Regions from separate parts of the Homo sapiens genome. Here region 2 is linked to region 1. Evidence: fine-mapped expression QTL. Tissue or cell type: testis. Region 1 holds a variant in brackets; the other region holds the start of a gene. All regions are shown on one strand. Distances are between the middles of the regions.

Evidence for each region. PIP is the estimated chance that this variant, and not a neighbour inherited with it, causes the effect.
Region 2: it holds the start of LINC00343, and the variant in region 1 is the best candidate, but not a certain one, in a credible set for the expression of LINC00343 in testis (GTEx, PIP 0.78).

Annotation. Positions count from the first base shown.
Region 1 is chr13:105,728,722-105,734,114 of GRCh38, reverse strand. All of the region lies in intron 3 of LINC00343 (long intergenic non-protein coding RNA 343), which reads right to left. Among named protein-coding and RNA genes, the nearest start is that of LINC00343, 25 kb to the right of the region's middle. The variant G/A (reference allele first, on the strand shown) is at 2,810.
Region 2 is chr13:105,703,633-105,709,025 of GRCh38, reverse strand. It overlaps LINC00343 (long intergenic non-protein coding RNA 343), which reads right to left and starts at 2,196. Exons shown (of 4, transcript NR_046391.2): 1 at 2,109-2,196; 2 at 1,397-1,926; 3 at 1,189-1,312. It overlaps LOC105370345 (a long non-coding RNA gene), which reads left to right and starts at 2,170. Exons shown (of 7, transcript XR_931698.2): 1 at 2,170-2,356; 2 at 3,654-3,835.

The sequences.
Region 1 (5,393 bases):
CAGTGGGCCAGATTTGACCCTCTACGCATAGTTCATGGACCCCTGTTTTAATTCACAAGTCTAAAATCAGTAGTGAGAGTCATTTGGTTTATATTTTAAAGATCAATAAAAATTTTCTTCTTATGCTCCCATCTTGTTATGCATATTCAATCAGAATTCTAGGCTATGGTTTTCAATTTTAAAAGCCGGGTATATCTGAAACTCAAAGCATAAACATTTGTTAAATCATTCATGGTGTCTGGAAAGGGTATTCTGAAAGCTAATTCCTAATGATGAAAACAATAGTATATATAAGCATGATTTGAAAAGATAAACACAGAATATAAGTTATTTTAACCACTATACTTCTAAATAACTAATATCAAGAAATTGCTATCCTTTAAAGAAATATTGGCAGTGTGCTACAATGCCACCTATTAATAATATTTATATATCAACATTTTATATTATAGTTCCTATTTGTGAGTACCTAGACCAATGCTGACTTCTGAGATGGGTCAACCAATTCCTGACTATACCCACACTCATGCGTAGGTGTGTCCATGATTTTACCACATCCAAGAACTTCAGAGCTGGCCAATATCCCAAAATCCCTAAGAGAAATCAAGATCGTCTTATAGAAAAACAAGCGCTCTCCACATGTTCAGCTTCTCTAGCTCTTTTTTTTTTTGGTTTATTTTTATAGGAATGTGTATTTGTGGAGGAACTTCACAGGTATGAGGCAAGCAAAAGCTTTCATTCATTTAGGGAGAGTGATGGAAGAACTATGCAGAGAGGCAGCCACGCAGTGGCAGGAGGTGGGAAGAGGGTGCATTCAGACATTCTCTGCAAATTTTGCAGCCAAAAGAACTATTTCTTTTTTTAGAATCTTCTAAATATACAAGTAAAAAAGAATTGTGAAGCATGTATGCATCACATAACATTGCAAATCATGACATAATATAATATAATGTAGTCATCTTTTTTGTGGAGCAGAATGTGTATGCCATGTTGCTTTCCCAGAATATTTATAGATTTCCTGAGAGTGACTAATTGTTCTCCAAAATTATATTTTTAGTTGCCTTTGCTGTATCCACAGCTCTAAGAAACTGAAAAAATGGAAGCCTTTTGGCACAAGTATCAATGAACTCCCATCTGCTGTTAGTGGTTTCATTACAAAAACGTGTGTATCTCTAGAAGAATTTTTTTAGAAAGAAGCCATTTCAGCTCCATGTCAATCGATAGCTTTACAAGTAACCCATCATAGTTGATTTTATATGAGCTTAGCCCTTTCAGGAAAAAGAAATCATTCCATGAAGCAATCTTACAAAAACTGTGCTAGGATATTATATGTATGAGAAGACTCCAAGAACACAAACCCATGAACTGAAGCTAATGAATTATCTATGGATTTCAGTTCAGATTTCCCAGGTTTACTTGAGAAGATGAATATATTCAGACAAATAAATGCCATTACTATTTTTTTGTCTGCTAGCAAATGGCATTATCAACAGATTTGCCTTTATAAGATGTACACATTGCTTTACCTAGGGTAGTTGAGAAAATATTAATCGTCAGAAATACTGTAAATTCCAGTCATGTATTTATGAAATATATTGATATTGTCAGTCTCTATTTATTATAGTGTGCTACAAAGTCTAGACAAAGTAATCACACATTCTTTGTAAAGGCATGGATTGCAAAAATCACTGAATTTGCTGTAATGCTAATCCCTGGGTCTCATGCATTAATTTTTTATAGTTGATTTTACATTCCTATGAAGAAAAAATAATTAACAACACTTTTCCACCCTTCTAATTTAACTAGAATCTTGCATTTAGAATAACAAGTAATGTTTAATTTGACCATTGAGCTATGTCTTCATTTGCCCATTTCTCAATTCCAATTTAAAATGCAAATATTAAAAATTTCAAATATTTCCTCTCTAAGAACATCTCATAGTGATGCAGCTTGTGTCACTATAAAAACATCAATTTCCAAATTCTCATTCATTGCAGTTCCTCATCTAGTTGCTGAATAAAAACAGTATCTCTAACCCTGAAGTTTTATTGTCCATTAGCTTAAATTCAACCTGATTTTTAAAAATGTAAAAGCCATTACTAAAAATACTAAATGTAAAGAAAAACAGAGCTAACACGTGACAAATCTAAGTGGGCTGACTGACATAGAATGAGGAATCTATTAAATCTTCAAAGATCTAGTTTTCTGCAGCCCCCAACCTCCTTTGCTCTAGGCAATTCCAAATATCTAGCATTAATCATGCATTAGTTCCTCTTGCCCCAGCTTCCTCTCCCATACTTCCTAAAATGCAGCGTAACATTTATTGCCATCCCTGGAACTGATTCGGTGCACACTACCACTCAACAGAAGAGTTTATATTTAAATTATGGACTCTCCAATAGTTTAAACATGTTTATTTTCCTCTTGCCTTGCTCTTGGTCTTGTCCACAGGAAATTTATTTTTGCCTGACAGCCATCCATTTATAAAAAGTTGCTTTGTACAAACTTCTTTATCTTCTTTGCTGATGGTCTCATTTTCTTTGCGGTCTATTTGTCTGTACTGATATTTTTCTGTGTGATAAGAAGGTTATCTACCAAATGGCAGTAGACTTATTGCCAGTAGTGGCAGCTGTTCAATTTTAGATGATCTTCTGAATCATAACTCTCCTAGGGAAAAGACACAGTGTATGTGCATTAAATGTGATTATTTTAAAATTTGCTTATTCACATACACAATCAGAAATTTAGCTTTCCATCTTTGGGGCAGAAGAATAACTCTCCGTAAAAAGAGGTCTTGCATTTTTCTGAT[G/A]ACGTTCACTCCAGGCAGCCTAACAGCTTTCAATTCTGTCTCCACCACTTATCCAGCATTTGACTTTGGTCAGGATACTAAATTTCTATGTCTTCACTTTGCTCATCCCCAAAGTGAAGACAAAAATATTACCATCTTTGGGAGTATTGCTAGCAGGATTGAGTGAGTTAATATGTGTGAAGCTCTCAGTTGGTGCCTGGAAGGTAGAAGGCACTCCATGAGCGTTGGCCATTCTTATTATTGCAAGAATAACTTTGTCTCAATGACAATCAAAACATCATCTTGGGTTTTGTCTGTATGACTGATGGACTGGCATTTACATCACATCAACCATTATTTAGGATAGGATAATCTCAGTTGTTGAGTGATGTTATTACAGAAGTTCAGTAACATTCAAGAAAGTCTCAGCAACACTATTCAATAATATTGAAGAACCATATCACCTTTTACAGTCAATTTAAATAACCAGGAAACTGCAAACAACCACACTTTTTCCAGAGTTGCTTTCCTGATGGGGCAAGCAGAACAGTACAATTGGTACAATGTACATCAAGTGTGGGCTTTTCTCAATAATGTTAAGTGTAAATATAAATATAGGAATGTAAAAAATGTAAAGGCTATTTTAATTGTATGTGTGTGTTATGAAGGTATTCTGACAAAAATTGAAAACGTTTCTATTATTCCATCAGATGCAGAAACAAAGGAAGTAGTAGTATGGGCTGCTTCATATTTTGAGACACAGAAGTCCAGACAGGTACCTAGTTACATGTTAAGGCCAGAAACAGGGGAGCTGTTACTGACTCCTCTCTTTCCCTCCACCACATCACCCAGCTGTGCTCCTACTTACTGCTCATTCAGCCCTGTTGGCTGCAGACTCTAAGTGTCTCTTAAATCTATCCCCATTGGTTATTCTCAAGGATGAAGCTCCACCATCTTGAGCTTGGATGACTGCAATAGTCTCCTCAACGGTGTCCAAATTCGATTTTCTCACCTAAAACCATAACCAGAGAAACCTTTTTAAACCTGTATTTGGGGCATGGTCCTTAGAGGCTTAAGCCTTAAGTGGCTTCCTATTGCCTACCAAATGAAGTCTCCAATCTTCAGCTTGACGGTGGGGCCGTGAGTAACTGAGCCCTGCCTCCTGGACAGCCAGGGTCCCTCTTTGCTCTGCTCACTTATCACGTTGGTCTTCCTATCCTGGAGTGTGGCTCACTCTCCACACCATCAACTGTTTAATTGCTGCCCACCCTTCAAATCTCAGCATCAACAGTGTCCTTCGATACAGGCCTTTTCTCCCTGCACTGGCACCCCGTTCATAAACACCTGCCATTTCTAATCACACCAACCTGTGCTTCTCCTTTTGAAGTGTTCACTCCGTGGGATACTTGTTGACATTTTCTCCATTCGAATATGAGCTCCATGGGGGCAGGCACCATATTTGTCTTGTGGCAGATGTTAGCCTCTGATTGGGCAGAATATCTGATACATAATTTTCAATGCTCGTTGAATATGTAAATAAATTTAGAGAATGCCTAGATAATTTCTTAATACCCAATTACTGTATTTTGAGATGGCTTGCTGAACTGGTTTAAATTTGGATCTGAATAATGCCAGACCTACTTAATTAAATGAAATTTTAAATTATTCAATGAAGGTATTTGACCATGAAATGGAAATATAATGCAGCTGTTAAAAACATCATCACCATGGCTGGAATGCTGTGTTCAAATACTGCCTGTGCAACTGAGATGTGTCCCTGGGCTAATTACTGACCTCTAGTTCCTCCATTTCCTCAGCTGTCATATTGTGAGAAGTAAACACATGAAAATATCTAAAGCACTTAGAAGCATAATAAGCCTAATAGTTCAGACACAATCATCTAAAAGGAAAACTCTCTTTTCTTCTTCCATCAATTGGATGCTTGTCTTTCATATTTTCAAGCTAAAACTTTAGATAATATAAAATTATAAAATTGCACAAAGTAAAAACTCTGAAAAATTTTTCTATGAGCTTTCCTTTCACCAAATATCCAGATTGGTCTGGTCTGAACAATTTAGATGTTTGGAGTCTACAACAACATAGCACATATGCACTCCACCCAGTCAGATGGACGGAACAAATTAATCTTGGTATCATCATCCAGACTATTTGCCCATCACAGGTTTTCTCTTTTCACTCACTGAGCTGAGTATAGACAGTCTCTCAGACACTTCCAGATTGTCCATGGCAGGAAATTTCCTACCTGGACAGCAGTGGGTGGCCCATTGAAGGGAGAAACCAAGCATTTCGTCAGGATTCTTGATAAACTGCCATTATCTGAGCAGAGGGTTTTCCTTTTGTCCTGACAAAAATGTCTGTACACGTCTATTTTCATGTATTTTTATGTGATAATTTCCTATTCTACCACCTTAAGAATTCAAAATAATCTTTCATGGAAAAGCATCAAGAGCTTAACAAAAATCACATTGAGTTACAGTTTCTGGTTTTTCTAAAGAACAAAGCCTTATTAAGTTCTTAAGTATGATTCAACAATTAAATCAAATGAAATCACTAATTTCCGCCCCCCTCTTTCACTCACCCCAGA
Region 2 (5,393 bases), 25 kb after region 1:
GCCAAAACCTGTTAAGTGGTACATTTTAAACATGTAAAATTTATTTTGTATCAACTTTTTCCTAATATAGCAGTTAACAAAAAGATAATTTTAACTACATTTATCACAATATTTTGGTCTGGGCTTCATGAACAATTACCTAAATGATGGCTCAAAAATCTCCTTTTGACATCTGATCAGATGAAAGAAGATAGTAAATGCTGCAACATGTGTGCCAGTGGAGAATCTGTAATTCTGTCCGCATAAATGTAACTTAAAGTTTACCAAGAGACTATCTGGTTTAATGTAATAACCAAATAATCTTTTACAGACATTCATACTCTCACTCATTCTTCTGCACTCATCAAATATTTAATTAGATACATGCTCTCTGAAACATGTATGTATATCATGTTTTAAAAATCAGATGCAAATTTTGTCTTTTTGCTCTCATAGGAAAGGATGTTACACAAATTGTGTACAAACAACTAAATCATTTTAAATCCTTAAAATAGGTAACACAGAGCTTGATACATAGGATATACTCAATTACAGTAGCACATCGTAAACAAGAGTGATAAAAGGATAAATCCAGTATCATGGGGCATTTAGAGAAGGAAGATGTGTGTGTGTGTGTGTGTGTGTGTGCGCGCAGAAGGGGTATGTTTGAGGGCAAGTGTGAGTATCTAGAAAGCTTCCTGAACTGGATGACTTTGAGAACTGATTCAGCGCTGTCCTGCATCACAGGGCTACAGGTAATATGAAGATGAAGCTGGGTAAATAGATCGGAAGAAGAAAAATAGGTTTAGGTCTGAATTTTATATTTTTCCTTTTTTTAAAAAAATTGATTTCCCCCTCCTCTTCATTGTAATCTTCATTAACAGAACAGAAAATACATTGAAAATAAATAATTAAAATGCCAGTTTTATGACATACATCAAAAATGGAGGTTTGGAAATTAATTATATATGAGAAGACAGCTACCTGCTGTTAAAAAATAAGAAAAAAATATACAGACATCACACAAAAAGTTTCCCACACCAGGTTTTTTCATAGCTTGCACAGCTTCTTCCTTTCATCACTGGACTCATTTTCCCACCTTCCCGACCCCAGTTTAGGATGCAGTTCATTCCGTGCAATTTCTAGCCATAAACTCTAGAGTATAGAAAAACATTCACATTACTCTGGGTGTTTGGTTCAGGAGTTTACCTTGAGTATCAGGTTGGATGTTTTACTCGCAAATGTTTATAAACCTGCTACTGCATGCAACGCACTGCTCTAGGTACTAGAGAAGACATGCCAAATAGTGAAAATACTTCACCATCAATGGAGACTGCAATAGACAAATACGGATGATGGAGATAACATACCTACAATGTCGAAGAGGAAAAATGTACTGAGTAAAGAACAGGCTTACCTCAAGGTTTTGCTTGCACCTTGTGGCAGTTCTAATTCCTTTTGCATCTCCTGGAGGTGTTTACTAGCTTCTATATGCATATATTACCACACCATGAAGTAGTGTCTATATACTTGAGAGATGATACTTCAAGCTTCTATTTCTTTAGAACTCTTTTTTAAAGGTTTAATGTTTGAAAATGTTAGTAGGTGTTATACGACTGCATATGTTAAGTGTATCTCCCTTGCGTAGTTGAATGGTGTGGGAGTGCACTGTTAAACCATCTGGTTGGTCCAGTTGAAAAATCCCTTTTACTTGATGAGATGGGGATGTAGGCTGAAGAGCCGGCCTGGTTGAAGAGCCGTGGGAACACCCTCCTCCTTCCTTCCTTATTTCTTCTGAGGTGGAAGTGTGATGCTCCAAAACAGTTCCTCTCTCTTCAGTTCCTTCTGTCCTTTTCTTAAGCTTAATAGTTCTGTGTTCTGGAAACCATTTCATTGGTTTTTGATTTTATAGTGCTCTCTTTACTCAAATGTACACAGCCAAGGGTACTGAGGAGTAAACAAAGTAGAACAGTGTTACACCCCTTTCAAATTCATTCACACTTCCACCAGAGTGATATTTCACAGGTTTTAATATTATCAGGTGACTTTCCTATGTAAAAGCACCTAGTCACTCTCCATGACAAAGCCCTGCTCCTTGGCATAGCTTGTCCATATCCATACCTCCCTACCTTTCCAGGTTTCTTTCCCATAGCCTCTTTGTAGAATTCACTGCAGCCTAACTGCCTTCCTAACAGCCTAACTGCCTTCCTTCTGCCTGCCCAGAAGTGTACCAGGCTCACTCGTGCCTTTGCTCACTCGGATGCCTCCCTAGATCACGTTTTCACCTCCCTTGTTCATCTGGCTCTCCCCACCCTCCTACTTTCAGACTTATCCTTCTAGGTCAGCAAATCTGGAGAGCCTCTCCTCTTGATCTAGGGTGAGCCAAGTGCCTCTTTGTTCCCTTTGCCCAGTGAACACACTCCTAAAGCAATGCATGATGTATGTTACCCCATTAAATCACAGGTTATATCTTGGCATCTGTGCCTGGCACATAACAGGCACTCAATAAGTATTTATTGGGCTGAAGTGAAATAAATAGTGTTTTAGATAATCAAGTACAAAGCAGAGTTTTAAGAGGCTAAATAGGTCAGTGTGATCATCTTTGTCATAGATTGTAGTAAAAATAATCTGTGAAAAGTGACTGATTATTGACAGGTAGCCTTGGGTATGCAGCTCAAGTAGGCATTATAAAATAAAAAACATCACATTCCATGTATTTTCAAAAAAAGCTTCTGGCTTACTCAAAAGGTAAGTGTTCTTTAAACAACTTCAATGGAAAAGGAGTTTCTTCCAAATGCTTGGAGAACTCCTTCTCAAGTCCGGAATAAAGCAAGGTCTACAGAGACAAAGTATAAATAAAACCATGGTGCTGAGCTGGTACCACTATTGGGCTGCTAAGCAGTGCTAAGCATTGCCTTCAGATGAGTTATCTAGCCTTTGTAAAGCTCAGATTCCACAGCTATAAACTGAGATGAATAATAATACACAAAACACTAAGCTGTTGAGTAGATTAAATGAAATTATTTATGTAGAGCAAATAGAACAGTACTGTACCTTATAAAATTTAAAACCAAAATGTAAATTCTGATTTTTACCCAAGGGTCAACTCCGCACAATTTTGCAATGGACCCTTCCCCGGCCCTCCAGAAGCTGAATATCGTTGTGTATCATATCCAAATTCAGTATCACCAGGGCATAGAGTAAGTGCCAACTGTGAGGCCATAGCTATGCGTCCACTCCCCTGAAACACATTGTGTACCTTCATTCTTGGAGTTGAGTCTTTGCATTTCATCCTCCAGAGTGAGAATAGACTGCGTGTTGGAGAGGTCAGGGAAATTATGTCTTTCTATGTCTAGCCCTTTATAGGTCGATTATTTGAATGCTTGACAGCATCTGTCCACTTATCTATCCCTGCAATAATAAAATACGGGACTAAAGTAGCTCGTATCTCTAGTGGGAGAGTGCATATATTTTATACGTCAATTCTTTAAAAGGGGAAATTCTTTCAGAGCTTCAGAAAATATCACGGAAGAGTTAAAAGAATGTTTGAGAAGAACATGTCTGAGTATTACCTACTAGCATTACAATTTTACTGCTTTAAAGTAATTATAATTTTCATTGCAGGATCTATGAAAAAGGCTTTTACCTGACGGTAATTCTTCTTGTACTTACAGGTCATTATTACAATGAAGGGAAGAAAGGAAGACATGAAGGGGAAATGGGACTATTTACCAAGTGTATCTGCATAGACTAAAGGAGACAAGAGGAAGTACTGAGCACCTTGATTCCTGCAGATAATTATTTAAGAACCATAAGAATTCTTTCCTAGCTTCTCATAAGCCTGCTCCTTCAAAGGGTGAGTAGTTGACATGATTTTACATCCCATTTATATTTCTTTATTAGATAATTTTATTTCAAATCTAGTCTTATTTTTTCTGAACCTTCTGGGATATATAACATTTTATATTATCATTTATGTCATCAAGAATGTAGATTTATATTCTTTTCTATTCACATGTTTATGTAAATAATTGAACACCTCTAAATGACAGATACTATCATTTTATATATTGTTAATAAGTATCTTCATGGCTGGGCGTGGTGGCTCACGCCCGTAATCCCAGCACTTTGGGAGGCCGAGGCGGGAGGATCACCTGAGGTCAGGAGTTTGAGATCAGCCTGGCGAACGTGGTGAAATCCCATCTCTACTAAAAACAACAAAAATTAGCTGGGCATGGTAGCATGCGCCTATAGTCCCAGCTACTAGGGAGGCCAAGGCAGGAGAATCGATCGCTCAAACCTGGGAGGCAGAGGTTTCAGTGAGCTGATATCGTGCCACTGCACTCTGGCCTGGGCAACAGAATGAGACCCTGCTTCAATAAATAAATAAATTAATTAATTAATTAATAAAGTATCTTAATGACAAATATTTAAATATATATAAATATTTACATTTACATATGGGAAGAGAGATCTGAAATTTTAAGCAACTTTTATCCAAAAACCTATTTTTTTCAAAGTTCCTCCAACATCTATAAAAGAAGTAAAGTCACTTATAGATCTATCTTACTTCAGGGCCTATGTTTTCCTCTACCATACAACACTGCACATTCACAGACACAGAAATCTTTTACATTTCTAAAATAAATAAAACATCCAAACTTCAGTTTAAAAAAAATGGATCTACAGATCCACCATAGACTAAACGACCAAACATAGTCAGAGGTGTTTACTTGTTTGTTTCGGTCTTAAGGGAATCTTCAAACTACCCTAGAGCCTCGTGTATCCAATGAGAGCAGTTTGGACATTGAATGAATGGTGATGTCATTAAATGAGCTATGGAGCAAGATGTAAGAACACGCTTTAGAGTAAATAACATATTTGGCTTCTGAGGTATAAAAAGGGAAGGAGGCTTTCTCAGGACATTTGGGTACCTGGTCCTTCATACTCAGGAGGTTTTTCCATCTTCATGTCATGGAATAAACTATGCTTTAAAGAAATGCTGCGTCAGCAGAAAGTGTTTCAAATATAAGGAAATTGTCATAGCTTTGAAATTATGTCAAATATCATTTTAACTAAGAGAGCCATTGTCTTTCCATATATTTATCTAGAAGAAAATTTACTGGACAAAATAAATATAGAACAACTTCATGTGTAGTCATTAATGGTCGGATAGGCAGTTACTATAAAATATGAATAATCTAAAAATCATTTTAGCCATTTGTTTTTAATAAATCTCACTTGTGATTGATTTATTAAAAACAGGGCCTCCAGAAGAAAGAAACTTAATACCTTTCCTCCATCATTATGAAGGCACTAGTACTGACGTAACTAAAATTAGATGGCAGCTTGAGGGAGGAAGAGATGATGTAGAGATGGTGTGTAATCTGTGTAAACAGTCTCTCAACTGTCTA